Regions from separate parts of the Homo sapiens genome. Here region 1 is linked to region 2. A link means that fine-mapping ties the variant in region 2 to the expression of a gene that starts in the linked region. Tissue or cell type: lymphoblastoid cells. Region 2 holds a variant in brackets; the other region holds the start of a gene. All regions are shown on one strand. Distances are from middle to middle.

Evidence for each region. PIP is the estimated chance that this variant, and not a neighbour inherited with it, causes the effect.
Region 1: it holds the start of LZIC, and the variant in region 2 is fine-mapped to the expression of LZIC in lymphoblastoid cells (GTEx, PIP 0.93).

What each region holds. Positions count from the first base shown.
Region 1 is chr1:9,940,010-9,948,062 of GRCh38, forward strand. LZIC (leucine zipper and CTNNBIP1 domain containing) reads right to left here and starts at 3,382. Exons shown (of 8, transcript NM_032368.5): 1 at 3,240-3,382; 2 at 2,615-2,773. NMNAT1 (nicotinamide nucleotide adenylyltransferase 1) reads left to right here and starts at 3,466. Exons shown (of 5, transcript NM_022787.4): 1 at 3,466-3,506. It also overlaps the pseudogene RN7SKP269. RefSeq lists enhancers at 2,411-2,981, 2,515-3,714, 2,982-3,551.
Region 2 is chr1:9,996,922-10,004,974 of GRCh38, forward strand. RBP7 (retinol binding protein 7) reads left to right here and starts at 307. Exons shown (of 4, transcript NM_052960.3): 1 at 307-410. The coding sequence starts at 338. LOC124903840 (basic salivary proline-rich protein 2-like) reads right to left here and starts at 1,168. Exons shown (of 2, transcript XM_047436754.1): 1 at 761-1,168. The coding sequence starts at 1,109. RefSeq lists a silencer at 2,056-2,256. The variant T/C (reference allele first, on the strand shown) is at 4,692.

The DNA.
Region 1 (8,053 bases), 57 kb before region 2:
TTGGCGGGCTGAGGTGGGAGAATCATCCAAGCCTTGGAGGCAGAGGTTGCAGTGAGCTGAGATTGTGACACTGCACTCCAGCCTGGGAGACAGAGTGAGACTCCTACTCAAAAAAAAACAAAAAACAAAAAACAAACCACAAAACTTTCCAGGTAACTTATTAAAACATGTTTTTTGTTTGTTTTGAGACAGAGTCTTGCTCTGTCGCCCAGGCTGGAGTGCAGTGGAGCAATCTCAGCTCACTGCAAGCTCCGCCTCCCGGGTTCACACCATTCTCCTGCCTCAGCCTCCCGAGTAGCTAGGACTATAGGCACCCGCCACCACGCCCAGCTTATTTTTTTTGTATTTTTTAGTAGAGACGGGGTTTCATCGTGTTAGCCAGGATGGTCTCGATCTCCTGACCTCGTGATCCGCCCACCTCAGCCTCCCAAAGTGCTGGGATTACAGGCGTGAGCCACTGCACCCGGCCTAGTTTTTGTATATTTTTTTTAGTAGAGACAGGGTTTCACCATGTTAGCCAGGATGGTCTCAATCTCCTGACCTCGTGATCCGCCCGCCTCGGCCTCCCAAAGTGCTGGGGTTACAGGCGTGAGCCACCGCACACAGCATTAAAGCATGTTTTATTTTCCTACACATAATGAAATCATTACCAGATGATTTGACATGTGTACTTCATTGGAGAGGATTCTTACAGTATATTCAAAATTAAATATAATGACAAAAAATTACTACCTAATCTATTAAAATTGGCATAAGTCATCTATGATCATTAATGATATGCAAACATAAACAAGTATTATACCCAGAAGTGTAATTTATTGTAGCTACATCTTATGTATAATAGTTTAGTGGATTTTTCCTGGAAATTGTCCATTTTAATTTTTCTCTTAAGTCTGTGGAATTTTCCAGTAAAAGTCAAGGCAAACCCAAGATGTAACTGACAATGTCTTTTCAGAGTTAGTTTCCTACAGTCTAACCACACTGGATGACTTGCTGTTCCAAAAATGTCATGCACTTTTTTGAGCCTGCATTTTTTTTTCTACCTATGAAGCCCAGTTCATTCTTCAAAGTCTAGTTCAAGTGTCACCTTCTCTACAAGGTCTTCCTTGATTTCCTCCCAATCACTAGGTTGTGAATTATTTAAGTAGGGATTTTACCTTTTCTTTCTTTCGTTCGTTCGTTCTTTCTTTCCTCTTTCTTTTTTTTTTGATGGCGTCTCACGGTCACCCAGGTGGAGTGCAGTGGCATGATCTTGGTTCACTGCAACCTCTGCCTCCTGGGTTCAAGTGACTCTCCTGCCTCGGTCTCCCGAGTAGCTGGGAATGTAGGTGCCCGCCACCACGCTCAGCTGATTTTTGTACTTTTAGTAGAGATGAGGTTTCACCATGTTGGCCAGGCTGGTCTCAAACTCCTGACCTCAGGTGATCCGCCTGCCTCAGCCTCCCAAAATGCTGGGATTACAGGTGTAAGCTATCGTGCCTAGCCTTTACCTTTTTTTTTTTTTTTTTTGAGATGGAGTCTCACTCTGTCGCCAGGCTGGAGTGCAGTGGCACGATCTCGGCTCACTGCAACCTCCGCTTCCCAGGTTGAAGAGATTCTCCTGCCTCGGCCTCCCAAGTAGCTGGGATTACAGGCACGCACTACCACGCCCAGCTAATTTTTGTATTTTTAGGAGAGACGGGTTTCACCATATTGGCCAGGATGGTCTCGATCTCTTGCCCTCGTGATCTGCCTGCCTCGGCCTCCCAAAGTGCTGGGATTACAGGCGTGAGCCACCGCACCCGGCCTTTACCTTTTCTTTATACACCAGCATCCAGCACAATCTTGGACAGACAAAAAGTGCCGAATAAACAACTGGTAGATGAATAATGAGAATTGATTGCTTCTTCTTTAGCATTCAAATCTTTTTTTTTAAAATTTTTTTTGAGACGGAGTCTCGCTCTGTCGTCCAGGATGGAGTGCAGTGGCGCGATCTCGGCTCACTGCAACCTCAGCCTCCTGGGTTCAAGCAATTCTCCTGCCTCAGCCTCTCCAGTAGCTGGGACTACAGGCATGCGTCACCACATCTGGCTAATTTTTGTATTTTTAGTAGAGATGGGGTTTCACCATGTTGTCCAGGCGAGTCTTGAACTCCTGACCTCTGGTGATCCACTTGCCTCAGTCTCCCAAAGTGATGGGATTACAGGCGTGAGTCACCGCGCCCAGCTCAAATCTTATTCTCTATTTAGCACTTATTTCTGCCTTTAATTATATATGATTTTATTATAATACGTTATCTCCTCTGACTAAACTCTGGAGAACAGAATATGAGTCTGATTCCTCTCTCAGCTTTCTCAGTACCTAATACAGAATAGAACGTCGATAATTTGGTCACGTATATAAAGGCTCAACATATTTTAAGGAGCTAAAGCTATTCTGAATACATTTCAGTAAAAATGGGTGCATTTTAAAAGCCTTAACCTGGTACTACATTAGTTGAGATTTATCCCCGAAAGATTAACTCGTTGGCACCACCTAGTAGTCACTAAATGTGGTGCACTTTTCACTTTTACGAAACTACAGAAACCGCTCTCAGACACTATATCTGGAGCGGAGGGTCCTCATTCATGCTCACCTGTCTCTTAGTACTCTGATCTCTGCACAGTGCCGACCGGTCTCAAATTGCACAAACCTCCAGTTCTTGACGTTCCGAGTGTCATAAACTTGAGGAAAATGAAATTATTCATCAGGACTACAAAAGGCTCAAAGTTCAAACCACCTCGGGGTGGAGATGCTGGAAAAAAGGAAACCATTAACAAGTAATTTTATTTGCTATATATAAACTTGCCCTAAGGCAGTCCAGATAACTTCCACTTGAGCAGCCTGAGACATCAAGGGCGGGGGCACTTTCCCCCTCGACTGCGCCTACCGCAGCCTTTCTGAGTTTCTTCCTAGCGAGGCCGAGAGGGTCTTTGAGGAAAATCCCGCATCCGGACACGCCTTGAGGGATGGCGTCAAACCCAGAGGCTTGGAAAAGGTAAGGGCGGAGAGCACGCCTCTTCCTTGAAAGTGAGGAGGGTTTGGCCCAGAACCAACAGGACTGGGTGAAGAATCAGCTCCGGCCACCGCAGCAAATCCCACCCCACGCGGGAACTTGAAGTCCGGCACGTAGGTCCCGCGGCGGCCGGGCTCCAACAGGCCCCAATTGCCACCAGAGGTAGCCGTAAACCCATGGTCCCCGAAACTCCTTCCGGGCCTACCTGACAAAAACTGGGACAACCTCCTTAGGCCCCCGGGATTCCCCCTGTGCCGCCTGACCGCCCGCCAGTCCCAGAGTTTAGGGCCAGGGGCCCCGCCTACCTGAGGGCACTGGCCTGGCGGACCGCGCCGGGGGAGCACTTCCGCTGGACGCACGCACTTCCGGCCCCCTGGAACCAATGAGAGTGCGACCGAGATGTTCCACTCGCTGGCGTCCGGGCCGCTGGTGATCTCCGGTAGCACTCGGGCCGGCGGACAGTGAGGGCGCGGTAAGCTCCCCGCAAGGAGCCCCTGAGAAACTGGTCGCTTTTTGTCCTAGATATAGGGGAGTCCAGGATGGTGTGGTGGAGTCTTTAGAGTCGAATATGACCCGAGGCAAGCTCATATTCAGGTTTGGGGCAAGGAGCTTTGATTGACCCTTAATTTTTTCAGTGGAACGGAAAACTTCGGTAAAATAGCTTCTGACCTTCGGAACAGATGGATTCACCTTGGAAAGGAAAAATCTCTTTCTAGAAGAGTCTTGAGGTCTGGCACCTTTAGGCTTAACGGGGGACGGCTGGGCGTCAGAGGAGGAAATCCTTCATTCCGAACGACTTCCCTTTCCTCCTAAATCCTTCTTTCCAAATCTGTAAAAGACTACATCTACTTTGCTGGAGGTGGTTTGACACTCATGCTCCTTGAGAAGGAGGTAATGAGCTGTAGGGCAGCTCTTAAAAAGTTACCCTTGGACGGGCGCGGTGGCTCACGCCTGTAATCCCAGCACTTTGGGAGGCCGAGGCAGGCGGATCACGAGGTCAGGAGTTCGAGACCAGCCTGGCCAACATAGTGAAACCCCGTCTCTACTAAAAATACAAAAAATTAGCTGGGCGTGGTGGTGGGCGCCTGTAATCTCAGCTACTCGGGAGGCTGAGGCAGGAGAATCGCTTGAATCCTGGAGGCGGAGGTTACAGTGAGCCGAGATCGCGCCATTGCACTCCAGCCGGGGCGACAGTTCGAGACTCCATCTCAAAAATAAAAATAAAAAAAAGTTACCCTTGGCTGTCGCGGTGTGACACCTGTAAACCCAGCACTTTGAGAGCCCGCGGTGGGAGGATCATTTGAGCCCAGGCTGGGCAACATAGCAAGACCCTCATAACAAAAAATTAAAAATAAAATTACCCAGAAACTGGTTGGAACTATTTAATGATGTTCTTAGTCCATCTTCCTGAAGTAGTCCACAGAACAACATCAGTGTTCATGGTAGAATTGTTTCATCAGGGCAGTTTTTTTTTAAGTAACAATGTCTTGTTAAAAAACAAGAGCTGTGTTGCCCAGGCTGGAGTGCAGTGGTGTGATCATAGCTCACTGCAGCCTTGAACTCCTGGGCTCAAGCGATCCTCTGGCCTTGGCCCCTCAAAGTGTTGTGGTGATTGGCACAAGCCACCGACAGGCCTGGAGTCTGAAGTTAGTTATATTTCAGCTACCCAGGATAAACTTCTAACTATGATTACCACAGAACTCTACCAAAACTAATTGTTTCACTTAGTTCTGTCTGATTATGGAATCTCTTTATTACCATCAGTTGTTTTTCAGAGTTACAATTTGAATATGAAACCATTTTTCTAGCCCACCTTAGAGAAGACTGTTGACACACTAGTTGAAATGGTTGCAATAGCCTCTACCTTGCAAGACACTTCAGATTCAAAGAATTTCCTTTGCAAAAGTCGGCCGGGTGCAGTGGCTCATGCCTGTAATCCCAGCACTTTGGGAGGCCAAGGCGGGCAGATCACTTAAGGTCAGGAATTCAAAACCAGCCCGGCCAACATGGTGAAACCCCATCTCTACTAAAAATACAAAAATTAACCAGGCGTGGTGGTCCATGCCTGTAATCTTAGCTACTCAGGAGGCTGAGGCATGAGAATCGCTTGAACTCAGGAGGTGAATGCTGCAGTGAGCCAAGATCACGACGCTGCACTGCAGCCTGGGTGACAGAGCAACTCCGTCTTAAAAAAACAAAACAAAACAAAACAAAAGAAGAAAAAAATAAAAGTACCTATTAATGCAATTATCTTTCAATTTTGATTCATAAATATGTGTGGAAGTGTCAATGTTTTGGGTAAAATGGAATTCACAGTGACAGAGTCAGTGCCATACAAAACAAAACTGGAAAATATACTTTAAAAAAATTATTTGAGCTGGGTGTAGTGGCTCACACCTGTAATCCCAGGACTTTGGGAAGCCGAGGTGGGCGGATCACGAGGTCAGGAGTTTGAGACCAGCCTGGCCCCTATGGTGAAACCCTGTCTCTACTAAAAATACAAAAAATTAGCTGTGCATGGTGGCGTATGCCTGTAGTTCCAGCTACTCGGGAGGCTGAGGCAGGAGAATTGCTTGAACCCGGCAGGCGGAGGTTGCAGTGAGCCGAGATCGTGCTCTTCAGCCTGGGCTACAGGGTGAGACTCGGTCTCAAAAAAATAATAATAATAATTTGAAAAATTTGCTGAATAAACATTTGTTCACAGTGTACTTTCCCTGATTTTTTAATTTTTGTTTTTGTTTGCCCTGTCACCCAGACTGGAGTACAGTGACACGAGCACGGCTCACTGCAGCCTTAATCTCTCAGGCTCAAGTGATCCTTGCACCTCAGCCTCCCTAGTAGCTGGGACTTCAGGTGCATGCCACCACATCCGGCTAGTTTTTGTATTTTTTGTAGAGATGAGGTTTTGTCATGTTGCCCAGGCTGGTTTCAAACTCCTGGGCTCAAGTAATCCTCCCACCTTGGCCCCGCAAAGTGCCGGAATTACAGGCATGAGCCACCCCACCCAGCCTTCCCCTAATTTTGATAATGATAATCCAATGTTCTGTTCTGGCATTTGTGTAGTTTTAGCGTGTGCAGTCTTCGAAGCAGTGGAGGTATTTGCCTTTTCTTCTCTGTGACTTAGTCATTCAGCAGTTCTATGCTAAGGGTTTTTTTATATGCCTTTAGGTTCTTGTTTAGAGTTAATGGATAATGAAAACATTTCTAATGCATAAGAGAAATGCATTCTGAAACAAAAATAGAATACAAGCCTTCAGACAGAAGGCAGAGAAGAAACTGGAGAAAGAGAAATAAGATGTTAGGTAGGAAACCATGGGAGACAGCACTGGGGAAAGTAACCTCCAGACTGGGAGTCACTGGGAAACCAGATAAATGCTCCTTGGCAGCGGGAGGAGTTGAGGACACTTCAGCTTGGTCTTGGGATGGGAGCCCAGAGAACGCAAGTTGCTCCAACTAGGTAGGGAAAATGCTGGGACAGATGAAACTTGAGTGGCTAACAAGAAGTACCAGGAGCCAAAGGCTCTCTGAACACTTGGGCCTCTTTTAAATGTCTGCCTTAAATAGCTTGTACCATTGTAAGTCTTGCATAATGGGTGAGAACATGAACTTTTAGAATCAAAGATGTCACTCTAGGTGTGGTTGTATTTGGAGTAAGGAAATAATTAAGGTTAAATGAGGTCATAAGTGTGGGGCCCTGATCCGATAGGACTAGTGTCCTTATCAGAAGAGTGAATGGAGAGCTTGCCCCTTACCCTTACATACTGAAGAAAGATTATGTGAGGACTAGCAAGAAGGTGGCCATGTACAAGACAGGAACAGAGCTGCCACCAGAGACCAAATTGGCCAAAACCTTGATCTTGGGCTTCTAGTCTCCAGAATGGTGACAAAGTAAATTTCTGTTGTTTAAGTCACCCAGTCTGTGGTATTTTAGTATGACAGCCCAAGCAGACAAATACACCATCTATATGCAGATACATCCAAATCTCTAGTCTGTTGTATGTCTGTACCTCTCCCCTGAACTTGGCTTTGTTCTCCACTTGCCTACTTATTGTCACCACTTGGATATATAATAGATGTCTCAAACTTCACTTCTCTGTAAACTGAACTCCTGATAGTCCCCTCAAGCCTACTCCATAGACATCTTTCTCTTCTCTTTTTTTTGGAGACAGGGTCTTGCTGTGTCGCCCAGGCTGGAGTGCAATGGCGTGATCATGGTTCACTGCAGCCTTGAACTCCTAGACTTAGGTGATCCTCCCACCTCCGCCTCCCAAGTAGGATGTGAGGGCAACCTGGCTGTGACATCTCTCACCCCGTTGATCACCAGGGTTGATCCGGCTGATCTGGCTGGCTAGGCCGGTGTCTCCTTCCTCCCTCACTGCTCCATGTATATCCCTCCCGAAGCTGCACACTCAAGTCGAAGAGAACGACCATCCCCAATAGAGGAGGACTAATCTTCGGTCAAGGGTATATAAGTAGCTGCGTTCCCCTGCTAGAACCTCCAAACAAGCTCTCAAGGTCCCAGGTAGCTAGGATTACAGGCACACGCCATCATGCTTCACTATCATTCTCTTCTCAATTAAAGGTAATACTGTTCTTTTAGCTGCTTAGGCCAAAAACTTTTGGAGTCATGCTTGACTTTTCTTTCTTTCACAGCCCACATCCCATCCATTGCAAATCACATTGGCTGTATGTTCCAAATACACCCAGAATTGAGTGACATCTTATCACTTTGCTACCACCATCAGGGCCAGGTCAGCATCACCTGTCACCTGGATTATTGCAGTAGCCTCCCATCTTATGTCTTCACTTGTACCCTTGCCTCTCCCTACATTCTGTTTTCAGCTTCAACTGCTAGAGAGATCCTTAAAAATATGTCAGATCATGTCACTCCTCTGCTCAAAGCCCTGCAGTGGTTGATGAGGTCTAGAGAATGTGTTGTTTCTAAATAATTTCTGTTAATCATGGTAATATAATTACTTCAAAGGAATTTCATTCTTATTGTGTGATTGCTCGCATTTC
Region 2 (8,053 bases):
AAGCTGACAATATTCAATGCCATGAGTTTGAAGATCATCCCTGGGTCATTAACATATAAGCAGGGAAGAAAATGTGGCCCGAAACAGTCTGGGACATGAGAAAGCAGTAGGAGAGGAAGCCCCAAGGAAAGGGGGAAGCTGCCGCGCGGTGGGCAGAGCCAGGAGCACCGGGCTGAGGCGGCCGGGAGCGCAGCGGCTTCTAGGGGTGAGTGGGACCCACGCGGCCCCACCTGCTCCTCCCGCGCGCGGCCCCACCCCCCTGCCCCGCCCCGCCTGGTTTATAGGTCCCGGCCCGAGCCTCCGGCCGCCCGCCGGGTTTGTCCCGCGATCCCCGACCATGCCCGCCGACCTCAGCGGTACTTGGACCCTGCTCAGCAGCGACAACTTCGAGGGCTACATGCTGGCCCTAGGTAAGGCGGAGGGGAGGCGGCGGCGGCGCGAGGCTCGCCGTGGGTCTCGGGATCAGGCGAAGGCGGCCGGGCCGGGCCTGTAGGTACGTCCTCTGTCCGTGCCTCCGCCCTGCTGCGCCCACCGTCGCCCAGTCGCCCCCGAGTCCGCTGGTCCTTGGCGCCTCCGTCCATCGGGCGCGGGACCCCAGTCCTTCAGTCCCCCAGTCCGTCCTTTCCCGCGCCCACCCGCCCCCCTGTCCCCACGGCCGTCTCTCCACGCCCTCTGTTCCCCCGGCCGTCGGTCCCCCACCCGTCCGTCCCTGAGTGCCCGCGTCCAGCCCCACGTCCGTCTCTACCCGCACGCGGCACACCTGCGGAGACTGCAGACTCGGGGTCCGGCCGGGGAGGGGGGTCCGGCCGGGGAGGGGGCGCCCGGGACCGAAGCCTCTGCCCGGCCACCCTCCCCGCAGCCGCCTTCCGTGCAGGCCCCGGGGCCCCGGGCGCGCTCCCGCAGCGAAGTCCCAGCAGCCTCGGCGCACCCGGAGCGGGTCGGGGATGCAGAATCCTGGAGCCAGCGGACGACCCTTCAGGTCCGGGCACCCGCGGGAGTGCAGAGCCTGGTTCGGCCCGGGGCGTGCCCCGACCGCCGCCTCCCACGAGGGCTGGGTGCCCGCGGCGTTCTTGCTCCCGGGGGCCCCGCGCTGTGCTTCCCGCCCTCATCGCGGTGCCAACGGTGCGCGGACTCTCAACTCACTGCAACCTCCGCCTCCTCGGTTCAAGCGATTCTCCTGCCACAGCCTTCCAAGTAGCTGGGATTACACGCGTGCGCCAGCCACCACGTCCGGCTAATTTTGTACTTTTAGTAGAGAAGGGGTTTCACTATATTGGTCAGGCTGGTGTCCAACTCCTGACCTCAGGTGATCCACCCGCCTTGGCCTCCCAAAGTGCTGGGATTACAGGTGTGAGCCACGCGCCCTGCCACGAGTGTAGTTTTTCTTGTAGCTTTAGGAATCTGGGAAGTTGCCGTGCCGGCCAATCCCTGAACCCTTGACCCGTGGGCAATTTTTGTTTTCTTTTTTTCTTTCTTTCTTTCTTTCTTTTTTTTTTTTTTTTTTGAGACGGAGTCTCGCTCTGTTGCCCAGGCTGGAGTGCAGTAGTACGATCTCGGCTCACTGCAAGCTCCGCCTACCGGGTTCACGCCATTTTCCTGCCTCAGCCTCTCCGAGTAGCTGGGACTATAGGCGCCCGCCACCACGCCCAGCTAATTTTTGTATTTTTTAGTAGAAACGGGGTTTCACCATGTTGGCCAGGCTGGTCTCGAACATCTGCCCTCGTGATCTGCCCACCTTGGCCTCCCAAAGTGCTGGGATTACAGGCGTGAGGCACCGCACCGGCCAATTTTTGTTTTCTTAACCTTAGGGCCCATCTTAGTTGATAAAGGGGCATTTATTTTGCTCTTTCATATCCCAAGAGATAAGAGTGTTCCTCTGGGTATGGGAAAAGCACCTCTCACTTGAGAGTCTTATGATCTTCTTCAGAGGAAGAGCAGAGAATTCTTTTATGGCCTGCTTCAGGGAAGAGGGGCAAAAGAAGGTCTGAGGGGGACCTTCCTGCTACTGTTATTTCCTCAAATGCCAAGTGATATGGTTTGGCTGTGTCCCCACCCAAATCTCATGGGAGTTGTAGTTCCCATAATTCTCATGTGTTGTGGGAGGGACCTGAGGAGAGGTAATTGAATCATGGGGTAGTTTTCCCCACACTGTTCTGGTGGTAGTGAATGTCTCATGAGATTTGATGGTTTTACAAGGGGTTTCCCCTTTCATTTGGCTCTCATTCTCTCTTGCCTGCCACCATGTAAGACGTGCCTTTTGCCTTCTGCCATGATTTTGAGGCTTCCCCAGCCACGTGGAACTGCGGCAGTTAAACCTCTTTTTCTTTATAAGTTACCCACTCTTGCCAGGCTCGGTGGCTCACGCCTGTAATCCCAGCACTTTGGGAGGCTGAGGCGGGTGGATCAACTGAGGTCAGGAGTTCAAGACCAGCCTGGCCAACATGGTGAAACCCCGTCTCAACTAAAAATACCAAAAAGAAATTAGCTGGGCATGGTGGCGGGCGCCTGTAATCCCAGCTACTTTGGGAGGCTGAGGCAGGAGAATCACTTGAACCTAGGAGGCAGAGGTTGCAGTGAGCTGAGATGGTGCCATTGCACTCCAGCCTGGGCAACAAGAGTGAAACTCTGTCTAAAATAATAATAATAATAAGTTACCCACTCTTGGATATGTCTTTATCAGCAGCGTGAAAATGGACATAAGGTGCCATGTTCTGAGGTCGCCTATCCAGAAACCCTTAAATCCAGAACGGTTTTCTGAAAACCAGCAACTGTGTTTCAACTTCAGATCTAATTTGTTAAAGTACTAAGTACTTACATCAATTTGTTAAAGTGCTAAGTACTTAGGTCACACTTATAGCACTAGAGTGGTTGTTTACATAATACTGTAATACTCTTTTTTTTTTTTTTTTTTTTTTAGATGGAGTCTGGCTCTATTGCCTAGGCTGGAGTGCAGTGGCGCGATCTCGGTGTGAGCCACTGTGCCCAGCCATAATACTATAATACATTTTATCTTAAGAATTAAGTTGGTCTGGGTGCAGTGGCTCACACCTGTAATCCCAGCACTTTGGGATGCTGAGGCAGGTGGATCATGAGGTCAGGAGTTCAAGACCAGCCTGGCCAACATGGTGAAGCCCCACCTCTACTAAAAATACAAAAAATTAGCTGGGCATGATGGCATGCACCTGTAATCCCGCTACTTGTGAGGCTGAAGCAGGAGAATTGCTTGAACCCAGAAGGTGGAGGTTGCAGTGAGCCGAGATTGCGCCATTGCACTCTAGCCAGGGAGACAAAGCAAGACTCCATCTTGAAAAAAAATAATTAAGCTAGCAGACTGGGCAGGTGGCTCACGCCTATAATCCCAGCACTTTGGGAGGCCGAGGTGGGTGGATCACCTGAAGTCAGGAGTTTGAGACCAGCCTGGCCAACATGGTGAAATACCCCATCTCTACTAAAAGTACAAAAATTAGCTAGGCATGGTGGCTCATGCCTGTAGTCCCAGCTAATTGGGAGGCTGAGGCACGAGAATCGCTTGAACCTGAGAGGTGGAGGTTGCAGTGAGCCCAGATCACGACACTGCACTCTAGCCTGGGCAACAGCATGAGACTTGGTCTCAAAAAAAATAAGTCAATAAGACAAAAAAAAAAATTCAGCTAGCAATCTTGAATTTTACTGATTTACTTGAATATATAATTAACTTTAAATTTATATGCTTGTTCATGTACATGTAAGGAAAATACATTCCATAAAAAATCACAGATATAGTACTTAGATCTTTAAACTGTAGGGTCTAGGAAAATAATAAATGATCGCCTCTTTTTTTGTTGTTGTTGTTGAGATGGAGTCTCTCTCTGTTGCCCAGGCTAGAGTGCAGTGGTGCGATCTCGGCTCACTGCAACCTCTGCCTCCTGAGTTCAAGCAATTCTCCTGCTTCAGCCTCCTGAGTAGCTGGTATTACAGGTGCCCACCACCTCTCCTGGCTAATTTTTGTATTTTTAATAGAGACGGAGTTTTACCATCTTGGCCAGGCTGGTCTTGAACTCCTGACCTCGTGATCCACCCGCCTTGGCCTCCCAAAGTGCTGGGATTACAGGCGTGAGCTACCGTGCCTGGCTGATTGCCTCTTTTTTAGTAGTAGAAGTGAGGTAAATGCCTGTTGGCAGTGATGCTAAGGGTCAAATAAGTCACCAGCAAATACACAGCACACATCTCATGATGTGCTCCAGCTGGCATCTCATTTGAGGGCAGAAAATCACTCCCTTTTGTCTAAAAACTAGTGTTCAGGAACTGATCCTGCAGCTCCCACCCGGGCTCTGGCATCACTCTCTCCCAGCATTTGCCAAACCGCAGTGAGAAGAAAGGCAGCTTGTCTTTGCACAAAGAAGCAAGTTTACTTGGGTTTTTTGAGATAGGGTCTTGCTCTGTCGCTCAGGCTGTAGTGCAGTGGTGCGATCATGGCTCACTGCAGCCTTCACTTCCTGGGCTCAGGCGATCCTCCCACCTCAGCCTTCCAAGTAGCTGGGACAACAGGTGCATACCACCACACTTGGCCAATTTTTCAATTTTTTTGTAGAGACGGTGTCTTGCTGTGTTGTCCAGGCTGGTCTCAAACTCCTGGCCACATGCAATCCTCCTGCCTCTGCCTTGCTTGGGTTTTAATATTTGGAGCTAACCTGGGATTTGGGAGTTCCTGG[T/C]GTACCCCCACAGCAGCCAAGGACACTGAAGGTGCGTGCTTCAGAAATGGAGAAGCCCCATGTTAATGCCCACAGATATTGACTAACTTGTGCAAGTCCTCGCCTTTAGTCCTGTTATGAACCCAAGAAGGTGGTGGTGTTACTAACTTGTCCCAGATTACTGTGTACACTGGGATATATTTATTTAATTTAATTAGTTTATTTATTTATTTATTTATTTATTTATTTATTTTTGAGACAGAGTCTCCCTTTGTTGCCCAGTCTGGAGTGCAGTGGCACGGATCTTGGCTCACTGCAACTCCGTCTCCCGGGTTCAAGCAATTCTCCTGCCTCAGCCTCCCAAGTAGCTGGGATTACAGGCACACGCCCCCACACCCCGTTAATTTTATATTTTTAGTACAGACAGGGTTTCACCACGTTGGCCAGGCTGGTCTCGAACTCCTGAGCTCAGGTGACCTGCCTGCCTCGGCCTCCTAAAGTGCTGGGATTACAGGCATGAGCCACCACATCTGGCCCTACACTGGGATTTAAAGGGATCCCTTCTTGCCTTCAACCCACATTGCCTTGAGATTAGAAGTGGCTTTGAGATTGAAGGTTAATATAAACATCTGAAGCTTAGATAAATGTACGTTTGTGTGGACTCCTTTGAGATCCTACCTTCAGGTGTATATGCTCACACATTTGTAATAGCACGTGCATCAGGCTGTTCCCTCCTACTCGAATGTCTTATTTTCTATTTAACATAATCTAGTAGATGAAAAAGCATGGCTTGACCTGGGTAACAGCCTTATGAGGAATATGGCCTTTTGGACTGTTGGACTGTTGAGGTTCTAGTAAGTGTGGACCTGGCAGAAAGTGACCAGAACTTATGCTAATTTATTCATTTTATTTTATTTTTATTTTTTGAGATAGGATCTCACTCTGTTGCCCAGGCTGGAGTGTAGTGGCACCATCTTGGCTCATTGCAACCTCCTCCTTCTAGGCTCAAGCGATCCTCCCACCTCAGCCTCCCCAGCAGCCAGGACTGCAGGTGCACACCACCATGCCCAGCTAATTTTTATTTTATTTTTTGGTAGAGATGCGGTTTCACCATGTTGGCCAGGCTGGTCTTGAACTCCTGGCCTCAAGTGATCTGCCTGCCTCGGCTTCCCAAAGTGCTGGAATTACAGGCCTGAGCCACTGGACCTGGCCCAGAACTTATGCTAATTCAAAGTAAATTTTGGTATTTAAAGAGGCCAGCCTTGTAACTGCAAATCTGTGAAGTGACAATGTTGCAACATGGTAGTGAGGTAGGAGGCAGGGCTCAACTCCAGAAGCCAGAAGCGGGGCTTGGGACAGCGGACCAAACTGAGGACTAACTAAAACAGGGATAGGATGGAAGCAGCTTTTCATAAAACACATAAAACAGTGTGCCATATCAGTTTACCATTGCCATGGCAACACCTGGAGTTAGCACCCCTTTCCATGGCAATGACCAGAGGACCCAAAAGTTACTACCCCTTCCCTAGAAATGTCTGCATAAACCACCCGTTAGCCGGGCATGGTGGCTCACGCCTGTAATCCCAGCACTTTGGGAGGCTGAGGTGGGTGGATCACCTGAGGTCAGGAGTTCGAGACCAGCCTGGCCAACATGGTGAAACCCATCTCTACCAAAAATACAAAAATTAGCTGGGCGTGGTGGTGGGCACCTGTAGTCTCAGCTACTCAGGAGACTGAGGCAGGAGAATCATTTGAATCCGGAGGCAGAGGTTGCAGTGAGCCAAGATCGTGCTGCCATTGCACTCCAGCCTGGGTGACAAGAGCAAAACTCTGTCTGAATAAACAAACAAACAAACAAACAAAAACAAAAAAACCACCCCTTACTCTGCATGTAACTAGAAGTGGGTATAAATATGACTACAAAACTGCCCTGAGCTGCTACTTTCTGCCTATGGGGTAGCTCTTTTCTGCGGGAGCAGTCACAGAGCTGTGACACTGCTTCTTCAATAAAGCTGTTTTCTTCTCCCTCTGGCTTGCCCTTGAATTCTTTCCTGGGCAAAGCCAAGAACCTCTGCAGGCTAATCCCCGCTCTGGGGCTCACCTGCCCTACATGAGTAGTGCAAATTGTAAATTTGCTAACAACAAATTGCCTCACATATTTTATTTTATTTATTTATTTTTTGAGATGGATTCTTGCTCTGTCACCTAGGCTGGAGTGCAGTAGCGAGATTTCAGCTTGCTGCAACCTCCACCTCCCGGGTTCAAGAGATTCTCCTGCCTAAGCCTCCCGAGTAGCTGGGATTACAGGCACCCCCCACCACGCCTGACTAATTCTTGTATTTTTAGTAGAGATGGGGTTTTGCCATGTTGGCCAGGCTGGTCTCGAACTCCTGACCTCAGGTGATCTGCCCTCCTCAGCCTCCCAAAGTGTTAGGATTACAGGTGTGAACTACCACGCCTGGCCTGCCTCACAATTTTTTTTTTTTTTTTTTTTTTTTTAGATGGAGTTTTGCTCTTGTTGCCCAGGCTGGAGTGCAATGGCGGGATCTCGGCTCACCGCAACTTCCGTCTCCCCGGTTCAAACAATTCTCCTGCTTCAGCCTCCTGAGTAGCTGGGATTGCAGGCATGCCCCACCACGCCCAGCTAATTTTGTATTTTTAGTAGAGACGGGGTTTCTCCATATTGGTCAGGCTGGTCTCCAACTCCCGACCTCAGGTGATCGCCCACCTCTGCCTCCCAAAGTGCTGGGATTAAGGCATGAGCCACTGCGCCCAGCCAGATTGATGGATTGATTGATTTTGAGATGGAGTTTCCCTCTTGTTGCCCAGGCTGGAGTGCAATGGTGCAATCTCAACTCACCTCAACCTCTGCCTCCCAGGTTCAAGCGACTCTCCTGCCTCAGCCTCTGGAGTAGCTGGGATTACAGGCATGCGCCACCATGCCCGGCTAATTTTGTATTTTTAGTAGAGACGGGGTTTCTCCATATTGGTCAGGCTGGTCGCGTTGGTCTGCCCGCCTCGGCCTCCCGAAGTGCTGGGATTACAGGCATGAGCAACCGTGCCCGGCGCCTCACAGATTTTAAAAGCGTAACTCTAAACTCATTGTTAGTCTAAAGTTATTGGGTTTTGATTTGCTTACATAATAGGGTTTAAGGAAAGTCAGCAGTAAGTTTGGCTTGGTCATATTAATAATAGGAAATGAGCCTGAGTAACATGGTGAAACTTCATCTCTACCAAAGAAAAATTCAAAAATTAGCCAGGTGTGGTGGCACATGCCTGTAGCCCCAGCTACTTGGGAGGCTGAGGTGGGAAGATCTCTCGAGCCTGGGAAGCAAAGGCTGCAGTGAGCCGAGATTGCACCACTGCAGTCCAGCCTGGGCAAC